3 separate regions of the Homo sapiens genome follow, and regions 2 and 3 are each reported to be linked to region 1. Evidence: microRNA targets listed by miRTarBase, many of them from high-throughput screens and not tested one by one. Region 1 holds a microRNA gene; each other region holds the end of a gene's coding sequence.
The links. Region 1 holds the annotated microRNA hsa-miR-6515-5p (UUGGAGGGUGUGGAAGACAUC, at 1,334-1,354, shown strand). A microRNA usually pairs through its seed, bases 2 to 8, with sites in the 3' UTR of a target mRNA and lowers its output. Matches are read on the target gene's strand: a 7mer-m8 pairs with bases 2 to 8, a 7mer-A1 pairs with bases 2 to 7 and ends in A, and an 8mer does both.

Region 1 (4,125 bases):
GATCGAATCCAAACACAAGTCAGATTTTGGCAAATTCGTTCTCAGTTCCGGCAAGTTCTACGGTGACGAGGAGAAAGATAAAGGTAAGAGCCTAGGAGTGGGTGCTCAGATCCGGGAGGACTTCCTGGCAGAAGTCCTTGTCTGTACACACACAGCCGGGACAGTCCCCTTGGAGGAGGACAGGTGGAGGAAGTGGGGGAGTCTTCTCTATTCTCTAAGTCGAGGGTCCTCGCGAGTCAAGGCCCAACGGTGACCTCACTACCGTCCCGTCTCAGGTTTGCAGACAAGCCAGGATGCACGCTTTTATGCTCTGTCGGCCAGTTTCGAGCCTTTCAGCAACAAAGGCCAGACGCTGGTGGTGCAGTTCACGGTGAAACATGAGCAGAACATCGACTGTGGGGGCGGCTATGTGAAGCTGTTTCCTAATAGTTTGGACCAGACAGACATGCACGGAGACTCAGAATACAACATCATGTTTGGTGAGGGCCTGCTTCCTGGTGCTGATCTCTGTCCCATTAGTTAGAGGGAGACCCAGACCCCATTGACTTTCTTAATAATGATTTTTTTTGGAAGGGGAGCTAAAAGAATAAGTCCCAGCAACAATTTATTGCATTATGATCGCAGATCTAGGCTGTTAATTTAATTTGCGTGTTTGTATATAGTTATTTCCCAATCTTACTAATGAGGATTTTGAGTTCTAGAGCACTGATTTTTTTTTTTTCTCCTTTAAACTTAAGGCTCCACCCACAGCCCATTCAGGACAGAATCAGGGTCTGAGTTTCTCTTCTCAGCCTTGACAGACCCGAGTTGAAGAACCAGGTCTTCCTTTTATAAAGAGGGGTGAGAGCCTCGAGATGATGGGTAGTCTCTGACTCTTAACTGGATCTGCTTCACACCTAGGTCCCGACATCTGTGGCCCTGGCACCAAGAAGGTTCATGTCATCTTCAACTACAAGGGCAAGAACGTGCTGATCAACAAGGACATCCGTTGCAAGGTGTGCCTGGGGGTGGTGGCAAATGGCTGTCATGGGGAGATTCAGAGGTCAGCCTCATTGGGGGGTGGCCCCCGCTCACCTTCTTCCTTCTTCAGGATGATGAGTTTACACACCTGTACACACTGATTGTGCGGCCAGACAACACCTATGAGGTGAAGATTGACAACAGCCAGGTGGAGTCCGGCTCCTTGGAAGACGATTGGGACTTCCTGCCACCCAAGAAGATAAAGGATCCTGATGCTTCAAAACCGGAAGACTGGGATGAGCGGGCCAAGATCGATGATCCCACAGACTCCAAGCCTGAGGTTGGTGTTTGGGCAGGGGCTCTGCTCTCCACATTGGAGGGTGTGGAAGACATCTGGGCCAACTCTGATCTCTTCATCTACCCCCCAGGACTGGGACAAGCCCGAGCATATCCCTGACCCTGATGCTAAGAAGCCCGAGGACTGGGATGAAGAGATGGACGGAGAGTGGGAACCCCCAGTGATTCAGAACCCTGAGTACAAGGTGAGTTTGGGGCTCTGAGCAGGGCTGGGGCTCACAGTGGGGAGTGCACCAACCTTACTCACCCTTCGGTTTCCTTCTCCCTTCTGCAGGGTGAGTGGAAGCCCCGGCAGATCGACAACCCAGATTACAAGGGCACTTGGATCCACCCAGAAATTGACAACCCCGAGTATTCTCCCGATCCCAGTATCTATGCCTATGATAACTTTGGCGTGCTGGGCCTGGACCTCTGGCAGGTGAGACTTGGAGGAAAAAGGAGGATCCCTGGGGTACCTCAAGTGCATAAGATCACCCAAGAGGAAAGGGACAGGGTAGGCACCCCAGGTGAGTCTGACTCAAAAATGGTACTTCTTGTAAACAGTACTTCCTGGTCTGTCCCTGTGAAGTCCTCACAGCAACCCCTTTAAGGTTATACTTGCTGTGCACCAAGTACTTCCCCAAGTACTTTTATGCAAATCAACTTCTTTACCCCCAAAGACCTAGAAGGTGGTCAGGTAACCCAGTTAGTTAGCTGGGGCTGGGCACAGTGGCTCACCCTTACAATCACGGTACTTTGGGAGGCTGAGACAGAGGATTGCTTGAGGCCAGGAGTTACACAACTCAACCTAGCTTGGCAACACAGCGAGGAGACCCTATCTCTACAAAAAAAATTTTTTTTTTTGAGACAGAGTTTCACTCTTGTTGCTGAGGCTGGAGTGCAATGGCACGATCTCAGCTCACTGCGCCCTCCGTCTCCTGGTTTCAAGCGATTCTCCTGCCTCAGCCTCCGGAGTAGCTGGGATTACAGGCATGTGCTACTATGGATGCCAGGCTAATTTTTTTTTTTTTTTTTTTTTTTGAGACCGTGCCTTGCTCTGTCGCCCAGGCTGGAGTGCAGTGGTGTGATCTCTGCTCACTGCAAGCTCCGCACGACCCCCCAGGTTCACTCCATTCTTCTGCCTCAGGGTCCCGAGTAACTGGGACTACAGGCACCCCCCACCATGCCTGGCTAATTTTTTTGTATTTTTTTTTTTAGTACAGACATGGTTTCACCGTGTTAGCCAGGATGGTCTCCATCTCCTGACCTCATGAACCACCCACCTTGGCCTCCCAAAGTGCTGGGATTACAGGCGTGAGCCACCTCACCCAGCCTTTTTGTAGAGACAGGGCTTCATGTTGCCCAGGTTGGTCTCGAACTCCTGGCCTCAGGTCATCTGCCCGCCTCGGCCTCCCAAAGTGCTGGGATTACAAGGGTTAGCCACCATGCCTAGCCTCTACAAAAACTTTAAAAATTGGCGAGATGTCATGCATACCTGTAGTCCCAACTACCAAGGAAGAAGGATGATCACTTGAGCCTGGGGCATCGAGGCTGCAGTGAGCCATGATTATGTCACTGCACTCCAGCCTCGGTGACAGAGTGAGACCCTCTCAAAAAAAGTTGGGACTTGGCCGGACACAGTGGCTCACACCTGTAATCCCAGCACTTTGGGAGGCCAAGGCGGGTGGATCACAAGGTCAGGAGATGGAGACCATCCTGGCTAACATGGTGAATGAAACCCCATCTCTAGTAAAAATACAAAAAATTTGCCAGGTGTGGTGGTGGGCGCCTGTAGTCCCAGCTACTCGGGAGGCTGAGGCAAAAGGATGACGTGAACCCGGGAGGCGGAGCTTGCAGTGAGCTGAGATCATGCCATTGCACTCCAGCCTGGGTGATAGCGAGACTCTGTCCCAAAAAAAAAAAAAAATGCTGGGACTGAATTTTTGTCTGTTTTGGTCACTGAAATACCTTCTGTGCCCAAGACAGTTCTGGCATGTAGTAGGTACCTGAAAAATACCTGAATAAGAGAGTGAGAAACAAGAAACAGGTGCAGAGAACTGAAGTCAGTGGCCCAAGGTCATGGGGGTAGGAAACCACAAAGCTGGGGTTTGAACCTGGGCAGTACAGCACCTGAGTCTCTCCATCTTTTTTTTTTTTTTTTTTTAAGACAGAGTCTTGCTCTGTCACCCAGGTTGGAGTGCAGTGGCTTGATCTCGGCTCACTGCAGCCTCTGCCTTCCAGGTTCAAGTGATTCTCATGCCTCATCCTCTCGAGCAGCTGGAATTACAGGCATGCGCCACGACGCTGGGCTTTTTTTTTTTTGAGATGGAATTTCACTCTTGTTGCCCAGGCTGGAGTGCAATGATGCAATCTCGGCGGCTCACCACAACCTCTGCATCCCAGATTCAAGCGATTCTCCTGCCTCGGCCTCCTGAGTAGCTGGGATTACAGGGATGCGCCATCACAGACCCCGGGCTAATTTTTTTTAGTAGAGACAGAGTTTCACTATGTTGCCCAGGTTGGTCTCGAACTCCTGGCCTCAAGTGATCCGTTCGCCATGACCTCCCAAAGTGCTGGGATTACAGGCATGAGCCCGTCCCGTCCCTGGCTGTCTCTCCATCTTTCCATCTTTTTTTTTTTTTTTTTTTTTTTTGGAGATGGAGTCTCACTCTGTCACCCAGGCTGGAGTGCAGTGGCACGATCTTGGCTCACTGCAAGCTCCGCCTCCTGGGTTCACATCATTCTCCTGTCTCAGCCTCCCAAATAGCTGGGACTACAGGCACTTGCCACCACGCCTGGCTGATTTTTTGTATTTTTAGTAGAGACGGG
Region 2 (4,125 bases), not on the chromosome of region 1:
ACACACACACACACACACCGTCTACAACTGGCCAAGCCTTTGCCCCTCCGGTGCTCCAGGGTTATCAGACGCTGGGCCTGCACAGCGGTCTGGGGCAGAGCCCTGACAGCCAGATCTACCATCAATTTACCTTCCGCCGCCGCAGCTTCCCATTTAGCTTTTAACGTCAAATCCTACATTTTTGTCGGCTCCGGCCTGTCTAGAACGCTTGTGATTTCCCTGCAGGAGTGATTGCTCTTAACAAAATGGCAGCAACCACATTATCCGAGCAATTAAAACAGAGGCCTTTTAGCCGGTCCCGCAAGTAGAGGCTTGGAAAATTTTTTTAAACAAAGAAGAAAAAGTTAAAAGAGAAATAAGTGTTGGAAGAGAAAAGCATGGAAGCTCAGAAGAAACGTCTGCCCAGTACGCCTTTCACTTCCTGGGACTTGACAACCTGGGGCGGGGATGTTGGGTGGCTGAGAGCGGCTGGGGTGACAGATAATCTGGGGTGTCCTGCAGGTTGAAGCATCTGGTCAGTTGGGGTGTGCGTCTGGTTAGGGGGTTCAGCCGCCTGCAGTGTCAGGCAGCTGGGCATTCTGCCGTCTGGGGTGTCCGGTCTGCTGGGTGTCTGGCTGGTTAGGGTTTCTGGCGAGTTGAAATGGCAGGGCGGGTGGGGTGACCAGGCCTAGTGTTGCTGGCCCTGAGGAAGAGGAGGCAGGCTGTGCTTGGCCGGGGCCAAAGAGGAGCGCAGGTTTAAAAAGCAAGTGTATTAGCAAGTTTCTCCGTAGCAATGGTGCGCCAGGGTCTTTTGGTTTCCCTCTGTTGTTGTTTAATAAGCCAGAGAAAGTGTTAAATCTGCAGAAGTGCCTTAAGGCCCAGATGGCGGAGACCAGCTACACAAGGTGCAGAGAAGCGTAGGTGCATGGTGAAGATAACTCCTCTCCGTTTCCTGTTTTTAAAACCTCACCTCCTCCGCCACTGTTTACTCCAACACTTTGGTAGGCTCCTTTCTTCCACGTCTAGGACCTGATGGCTTTCTCCTGAGCAGATTAAAATAAAGACGCGGAAGACAACTGGAATCAGGAGAGGGAGGGAACCACTGGATCAAACGCAGGAGGATTGGGAGAGCAACAGAAAATCAGGGCGCGCCTCCCCCACACCTCCTCCCCATGCTATAAACAAAGGCAAGTGTCTGTAAACACAGCCCCGCGCCCACCAGGTCGGCCCAGCGCCGGCTGACCCAAGGGGAGAAAGTTCAGATCGCTTTGGCCGAGTTGTTCTAACCCCTCGCCCTCGCGTTGTCAGCCGCCCGCAGAAGTCCGCAGAGCCTCTAGCTTGTCTCTCCCTGGGCACTTCTGAATTCGCCCACGCCGGGTCTGATTCGGCCTGCTGCAGGCAGAGGGGTCATAGTGGACACCAGCTAGGCGTGGGAACCCTTGGGACATCGCGGGAGGGTCTGTGCCCGAGGCCAAGTTGCGAACATCACCCTGAGGATGGGTTCCAGGATGGAAACCCTCTGGCAAGCCTCTCCAACACCAGATTTATATACGCGGCGTTCCATGAAACAAACCACTTTTTAATACGGTTCACCTTTCTCCTCCTCCCACCCCCTTCCAAAATCCCTCCCAGCCTCCTCCCCCCTTCCCGCAGCCTGCACAGGCACTTTAGTTTCTCCGGTTTCTAGAGCTGAGATTCAAGCTTCCGCCAAGGCTGCAGGCAAAGGAGGCCGCTGGGACTTTCTTCTGGGACGAGCTGGGACTCAGGGAGCCCAAAGACCCAACAGGGAGAGATCCCGGGTCCCGTGCTGCCGGTAGTCCCGGAAGGGTGTCGCTTGTTTCGCTGGGCTGCGGCCGGGAAGACTTCAGACACCGCACAGTTAATATTGAGTTCCCTGTAACTCCTTGTAAATCTAACCCGCCCCTCGCCCCTCTTTAAATCCGTGGTCTTGTTCACGATTTCTTACTTGACGTAAAATTCCTTGTTACCTAATCATGGACTTTTTCGAAACTCCCTCCACCCCCCTTTCCCGCCTGCTCAGATGAGAAGCCCCCGTATAGAATACAAGCAAAATCCTCTCCTCTCTTTTCTTTTTCCTTTTTTTTTTCTTGGATGAAAGCCCCATAGTTTGAATTAAACACCCCAGACTAGTTCCCGTTGCAGCAATAATGCCGGGGTTCTCCTCACAACTCCTCCACCAGAAACACTCTCCAAACAAAAACTGACGGCCTCAAGAAATGGCTTCTGATTGACTTCAGGAAAGCAAGAGCACCTTTACACCTTCTGAGCGAACTGCCGGACTGGGTTCTCCAGCCCAGATCTTCCTTCTAGAGACTACTCAGCGTTCTCCAGCTGGGGGAAGAGGGAAGGAGACACCACACCGACAAACCCCAGACCATTTGCAGGATTTGTAACAAGGACACTTCTCTTTAAGAGCACCTCCTCCTCCTGCGTAGGCCGCAGGTCAGGGTGACTGGTTGGAACCACTGAGTCTTTAAAATAAAGTTAGAGGCAATCATGATAATTTAGTTTACTTCTGAATATTTTAAATATTACGAAAACAAGTATAACAGCTTTGTTTTCAAAACTCTTTTGAGGTATCAGCCATTAAAAGATTAAGGTTTTTGTAAAAAAAAAACACAGTGGTTTATTGAATACTTACAACGTTTACACCTTCAATATTAATTAAATTCCATTTAGTTTTAGAGGACGGAAGTGCACAAAACAAGTGGCTGTTGGAAACATCTTCAAAGAGGGAACGACCACAGATGAATGGATAGCACTAGATACCGACCCCAACGGAAATGTTAGCGGCCCTGTTTTCTGCTTTGAAATAAAACTTTATAATACCCAGGAATATTTATATCCAAAGGCCAAGTATTAAAGATACACTTCACAAACGCACTAGTGCCCACTGTCTTTATCTGGAAGGGGTTGAGTAGGTTGGCGGGGGGCAACGCTGGTGTCTACACAGCCAAGAGGGAACATTCACGCACACAGAATCTATGAGACGACGGGATCCCTTACCACACGGGAGTGTCCTCTTCGTATTAAAATATGGAATGCTTTTCTTCAAATATCCACTTTTTTTTTGGAGGGGGAGACGGGGAGCAGATGCCTCAAAGGGGGTCAAAGAGAGGGGAAGGAAATTGCACATAAATAAACCGGATGATTCCAAATGCAAGGAGTCCTCAGAGCGGAGCGCGGACGGCTTTTCCGGAGTCCTGGGTCTGCATCTGGCGCCTTGGCCCCTGCTCACTCGCGCTCTCCTCCTCCTCCTTCTCCTCCTCCTCACTGCTTGAGCTCCAGGGCCCAGACGTGCTGCGGCCAGCCCGTCCGGCCTTTGGTTTTCTTGTCGTTGCTGCTCACTGTGCTTTTCAAGATTTCGTTCTGGACAGAGGAAAGGCGAGGGCGAGAAAAGTGGAAAGAGAAATTCAGAGAGGATACCTGGTTCCACACCAACCCGGAGCTTCCTGCGCCGGAGGAGACAGTGAACCAGAGAGGAAAGGATACGATGGGGGAGTCCCAGCCCCTGCAGAGAAGCTACCAAGGTTAGCGCTACCCTAGCCGGCGGGGAGGCCTCGGCGCTGCAGCGCTCAACAACCGGATCCACAAGTTTATAAACAACCGCCCGTTTTCGAGTCGTTTATGGAGGAGCGGGGGGCCTTTTCTCTTACTCCAGATGTAGGGGCGGGAGCTGGAGTCGGCGCTAAGTCTGGTTTCTCTGTTTTCATTAGCAATCCTAGATCCACATCTAGGAAAAATAGGGCGAAGGAGCCTCTGTTTCGGCCTGGGCCTCTCGGCCAGAGGCTCTCGGCCTCCAGCTCAGCAGTGCCTCTCCTCCAAGGCTTCTGAAATCTCTGGTTATTCGGGAGGTCACTCGATTATGCAGCCACCAAAGGGCTGCAGGGGCCAAAGAAGAAAAATTCGACAAATGCAATTATTTTCCGGGCCCTTCGTGGACATAGCTCTATCCTGCACCACTGCCCTGTGGGCACTTGGTAGGAATCTGAGAAAATTTTAAGCGGCTCAATTTACTTTCGTGTTATTTTTAATAACAATGACCATAGTAATGCCTTTTCCCCCTTAAAATGTACAGGCTTATTCAAATAAAATTAGAAATGCCAATGGAATATACTCATCTGG
Region 3 (4,125 bases), not on the chromosome of region 1:
TGTTGCCAGGCTGGAGTGCAGTGGCGCGATCTCAGCTCACTGCAACCTTTGCCTCCCAGGTTCAAGTGATTCTCCTGCTTCAGCCTCCCGAGTAGATGGGACTACAGGCACGCACCACCATGCCCAGCTTATTTTTGTATTTTTAGTAGAGACACGGTGTCACCATGTTGGCCAGGATGGTCTTGATCTCTTGACCTCGTGATCCGCCTGCCTCGGCCTCCCAAAGTGCTGGGATTACAGGTGTGAGCCACTGCGCCCCATCCAGGCACTCACTCTCTAACCACCTAGGTGCTTCTGCAGCCTTGGGCTGTGTGGCTGGGGGGTCCTTCTCCCCTCCTAGTGAGGTCTGGAGCTTGGTTCAGGCCCATGATTTTTTTTTTAAATCTATTTATTTATTTTGAGACCAGGTTGTGAGACTGGCTAATTTTTAGTATTTTTGGTAGAGACAGGGTTTCATCATGTTGCCCAGGCTGTTCTTGAACTCTTGGCCTCAAGCGATCCGCCTGCCTTGGCCCCTCCAAAGTGCTGGGATTACAGGTGTGAGCTACTGCGCCTGGCAGAATTTTGTTTCTTAAGGACTGAGTTCTGGTATCTTCTTTTCTTTTTTTTTGGAGAAGGAGTCTCGCTCTGTCACCCAGGCTAGAGTGCAGTGGCGCGATCTCCACTCACTGCAACCTCCGCCTCCCGGGTTCAAGCAATTCTCCTGCCTCAGCCTCTCGAGTAGCTGGGACTACAGGTGCATGCCGCCACACCTGGCTACTTTTTTGTATTTTAGTAGAGACAGGGTTTCACCGTGTTGCTCAGGCTAGTCTCGAACTCCTGAGCTCAGGCAGTCTGCCTGCCTTGGCCTCCCAAAGTGCTAGGATTACAGGCGAAAGCCACCGTGGCCCAGCCCTGGTATCTTCTTTTATCTTAGGCTCTAGACTCTGATTCACAGCCTGAACCCTATCTCATGCTGAAAACACCTCCCACCTTCCCACCAAGAGCCTTAACGTGGGTCCCACACCGCTAAGACCAAGCACCTTGGATATTGGTATCTATCTTGATGGAATTTTAGGTTGCCTCATTTCTTTTTTTCTTGGGCCCTGGTGGAAATAAACCTGAGTGACTGCTCCCCAGTGCCATCACTTGGGCAGGACACTCTGTCTTAGTTTCTCCATGCTGCCTGTACAAGGTCAGTCCCCTATCCCGGCTAGCTTGGGGCTTCACTGTGGCTGACAAGAGTATTATTACTACCTACACCTCGTACAGCACACAACCAGAACCTAGAGAAACTTCTTTCAGGCCCACTGATCTATAAGCACAAGCCTCCTTAGTGAACTCTGCCCTAAAGTCCTCCTTCCAGCATTTGGAAGCATTCCACCATGAGGAGCAGGTTTACCTTAAGTCTTTGTCCACTTTCAGTTTGCAATACCACTAGGAGAGAAAAGGTCTGGATGAAGGGATGAAGATATCAGGCTGCAGGTATTTGAGGTGGCTATGGGGGAAGAGAAGAGCAAAGGAGAGGGCAAAAGACCAGGCTATGGAGAGGCAGGGGAGGGAAAATCACTGCTTCACTATTTCCATTGGGCCTGACGCTGAGTGGATCCTGGATTGTTTGCGTTTGGGAAGGAGGGCCCAAAGGGAGAACAGTAAGCAAGAACCAGGTTCTCCAGAGCCCTCTCCCCAGTCTCTGGAGAGGGTCTGCAGTGAAAGGAGCTCGGGTCTTCCCTGAGCCAAGGTGCCAGGGTCCCAGAACTGCACATGGGCCCACACCCCTCTCTGCTACTTCCTCAGGCTCTTGCTCACTAGAAGAGAGGAAAATTGTGCAATTAGTGCTGGGTTTGAGGAGGCTGACAGGGTGTAATCAACAGGGCCTCTCCACCAGGTGTGGGGCTAGGCTGGGTGATGGGCTCTGCCAGGCGTGGGGCTAGGCTGGGTGACAGGCTCTGCCAGGTGTGGGGCTAGACAAGGAGAGCCTGAGGGGAGCCTCTTTCCCCAGGGACTGGGTCCGTTAGGGAATTCCTCAGTTTTGTTCCTGAGGCATCACTCCCACCCCCACAGCTTCCTTCTACATCTTCTGCCTCGATCTTCCTTCCAAACTCTGGGGCAGCTTCTGTCACTTTGCTCACTAGGGGCTGGGTTCCAACACTGCTTGCGAATCATTCCCTCCATCACCCACCCCAGCGCTGCAGCTCTGGCCGCTGCTTGTGCTCTCAGGCCCAGGGTCTTTCCTATAACCCTTGCCCTCTTGTCTCCTCCGTTTGCTTGTTCTGGGGACACTCCCCCTGTCTAGAATTCACAGCTCTATTCCAACTGCTGACAGCATTCTTTTGGTTCCAGTTTGGGCCCTCTTCCAGGAAGACCTCTTGGATTTGGCCATGGTGATGCCAGCACCACACACCCTGAATGTTTGTGAATTCTCCCTCCACTCACCTTTGCCTGCCTTGAGGTATCCTGGCTGAGAATTCATCTGTCTTGCATAGGACAGACTGCTAAATGCCTGGTGGGTGTGGAGGGTGGAGGGTAGGAGTCATGACTCCTGTGTCCCACCAGGGACAGCTGCTCCTATGATCTGGGCTCAGGGTATGCTCCAAAAATGAGAACCTTCCTGACCGCAGGGCCCAGCTGGCTCCCCTGACTTCTATGCTGGCAGTGAGGAAAGAGGCCCTGGAGTCAGTCATTGCAGAGCTGGGCCCCAGGCATTTGAGTGAAAATGGAGAGGATTGATCCTTAGGGTTCCTAGAATTTTCTTACCTTCTGTGTGGTATAAAAATCAAGAGTGCAGTGGTTGGGAGATGAACAGGAAGAGGGCAGGAGGTAGAGGGCCAAGCAAAGGGCTCCACAGGGAGGAGTGGGATGAGGTGAGCATAGACTGAGATGGGCAGAGGCGGGGCTCAGGCTCGCAGCTAATTTGCAAAATTTTGAGATGTATGATTCCTTTATTTTTGACCTCAACTTACTGAGCAATGCCGTAGCTATGGAATAGAAGCATTTGTTGCACTCTTTTTGTGAGCCAGGCCCTGTAGGAGGGATTGTGGATGGCAAAACCTCAGGTTCTGCCCAAATCCTCCCCTTGGGGGCTGGAGGGTCTCTAGTTAATTGGCATTCCGGTGCTTAAGGCCACTTTTGGGTAGAGGTTTGGCAAGGATGGAGTGTCCAGACCTATGATCCTCTAAGAACTTTACTTTTTAAAAACAGCCACCCAAATGGTGGTGGCGTGGGGAGCAGGTGGTGGTGAAGGGACTGGGGTGTCTGGCCATGGCCACGTACAGAGGAGACTCTGTGAGCCCTCTCCCTGCCTGAGGGACACTTAACTTTATAGCAGCTACATAGGGTCAACGGGAGGCCCACCAAGTCCCTGAAATCCAGGGACAGGGAAGGAAGTGGTGGAGGGGAGGCTGACCCACCTCTAAAAGGTTGTGCCACTATGAGTAGAGCCCCCAGGGGAGAGGCCTCAGTAGAGCCCCCAGGTCCCCTCAGGTAAGCAGTGGCTCATCCTCTGCCTCAGCTACCCACACCCCCGGCTCAGCCAGTGGCACCAGTAGCACATCGTCCTCATCTTCCAGGGCCAGGACTGCTGTGTGGGGTCCAGGGGGGCTCCGGGTTGGTCCTGGGGGCCCCAGGCTGGGCAACAGGCGGCCTCGCAGGGCCTGCACCACTCCAGACAATAGTGATGGCTCTAGGGGCAGTGAGGGCAGTGGCCCTGGGGCTTCAGGGACAGTAGTGGGGGCTGGAGACGTGCTAGCAGATGGGAGGGGAGCCTTGATGGGCAGTGGGGGTGCCTGCTCCCCATCTTGCCCACCCACTGCCCCGCCCTCACGGGCTGGACCTGTGCCACCATCTAGGGCCTCAAGGGGAGCAGCAGAAGGTGTGACCTGGGATCTGGCCTCAGAGGCCCGAGCCGGGGTGTTGGTTCGAGGGAGCAAGCCCCAGCGGCGGAGACGGCGTACCAGGCGTCGCATCAAGCGGCCCCGCTGACGACGGCGGGCACCTGGGCCACCTCCTGGAGTCATATCCTGGCGTAAGATCTGTAGCAGAGAACGCAGGTTGCCCAGCACTGAGTTCTGCAAGGAAATGAGGAGGCCTCAGAGTCAGAGGGCCAAAGGCTGAATGAAGGAGGGTACAGGGGCGGGGCCACAGCAG

Region 2: the mRNA of HAND2 is a reported target of hsa-miR-6515-5p. Seed matches in the 3' UTR shown: 8mer at 3,071-3,078.
Region 3: the mRNA of LRP10 is a reported target of hsa-miR-6515-5p. Seed matches in the 3' UTR shown: 7mer-m8 at 3,370-3,376, 7mer-m8 at 3,064-3,070, 7mer-m8 at 2,500-2,506 and 7mer-m8 at 2,493-2,499.

Annotation. Positions count from the first base shown.
Region 1 is chr19:12,939,153-12,943,277 of GRCh38, forward strand. MIR6515 (microRNA 6515) reads left to right here and starts at 1,332; the gene lies at 1,332-1,388. It overlaps CALR (calreticulin), which reads left to right. Exons shown (of 9, transcript NM_004343.4): 2 at 1-83; 3 at 276-479; 4 at 901-995; 5 at 1,091-1,300; 6 at 1,389-1,502; 7 at 1,592-1,735. RefSeq lists enhancers at 1-504, 741-1,940, 1,277-1,904.
Region 2 is chr4:173,524,007-173,528,131 of GRCh38, forward strand. It overlaps HAND2 (heart and neural crest derivatives expressed 2), which reads right to left. Exons shown (of 2, transcript NM_021973.3): 2 at 2,085-3,369. The coding sequence ends at 3,271. Among named protein-coding and RNA genes, the nearest start is that of HAND2, 4.2 kb to the right of the region's middle. RefSeq lists an enhancer at 738-1,279.
Region 3 is chr14:22,876,861-22,880,985 of GRCh38, reverse strand. It overlaps LRP10 (LDL receptor related protein 10), which reads right to left. Exons shown (of 7, transcript NM_014045.5): 7 at 1-4,046. The coding sequence ends at 3,459. Among named protein-coding and RNA genes, the nearest start is that of REM2, 4.3 kb to the left of the region's middle.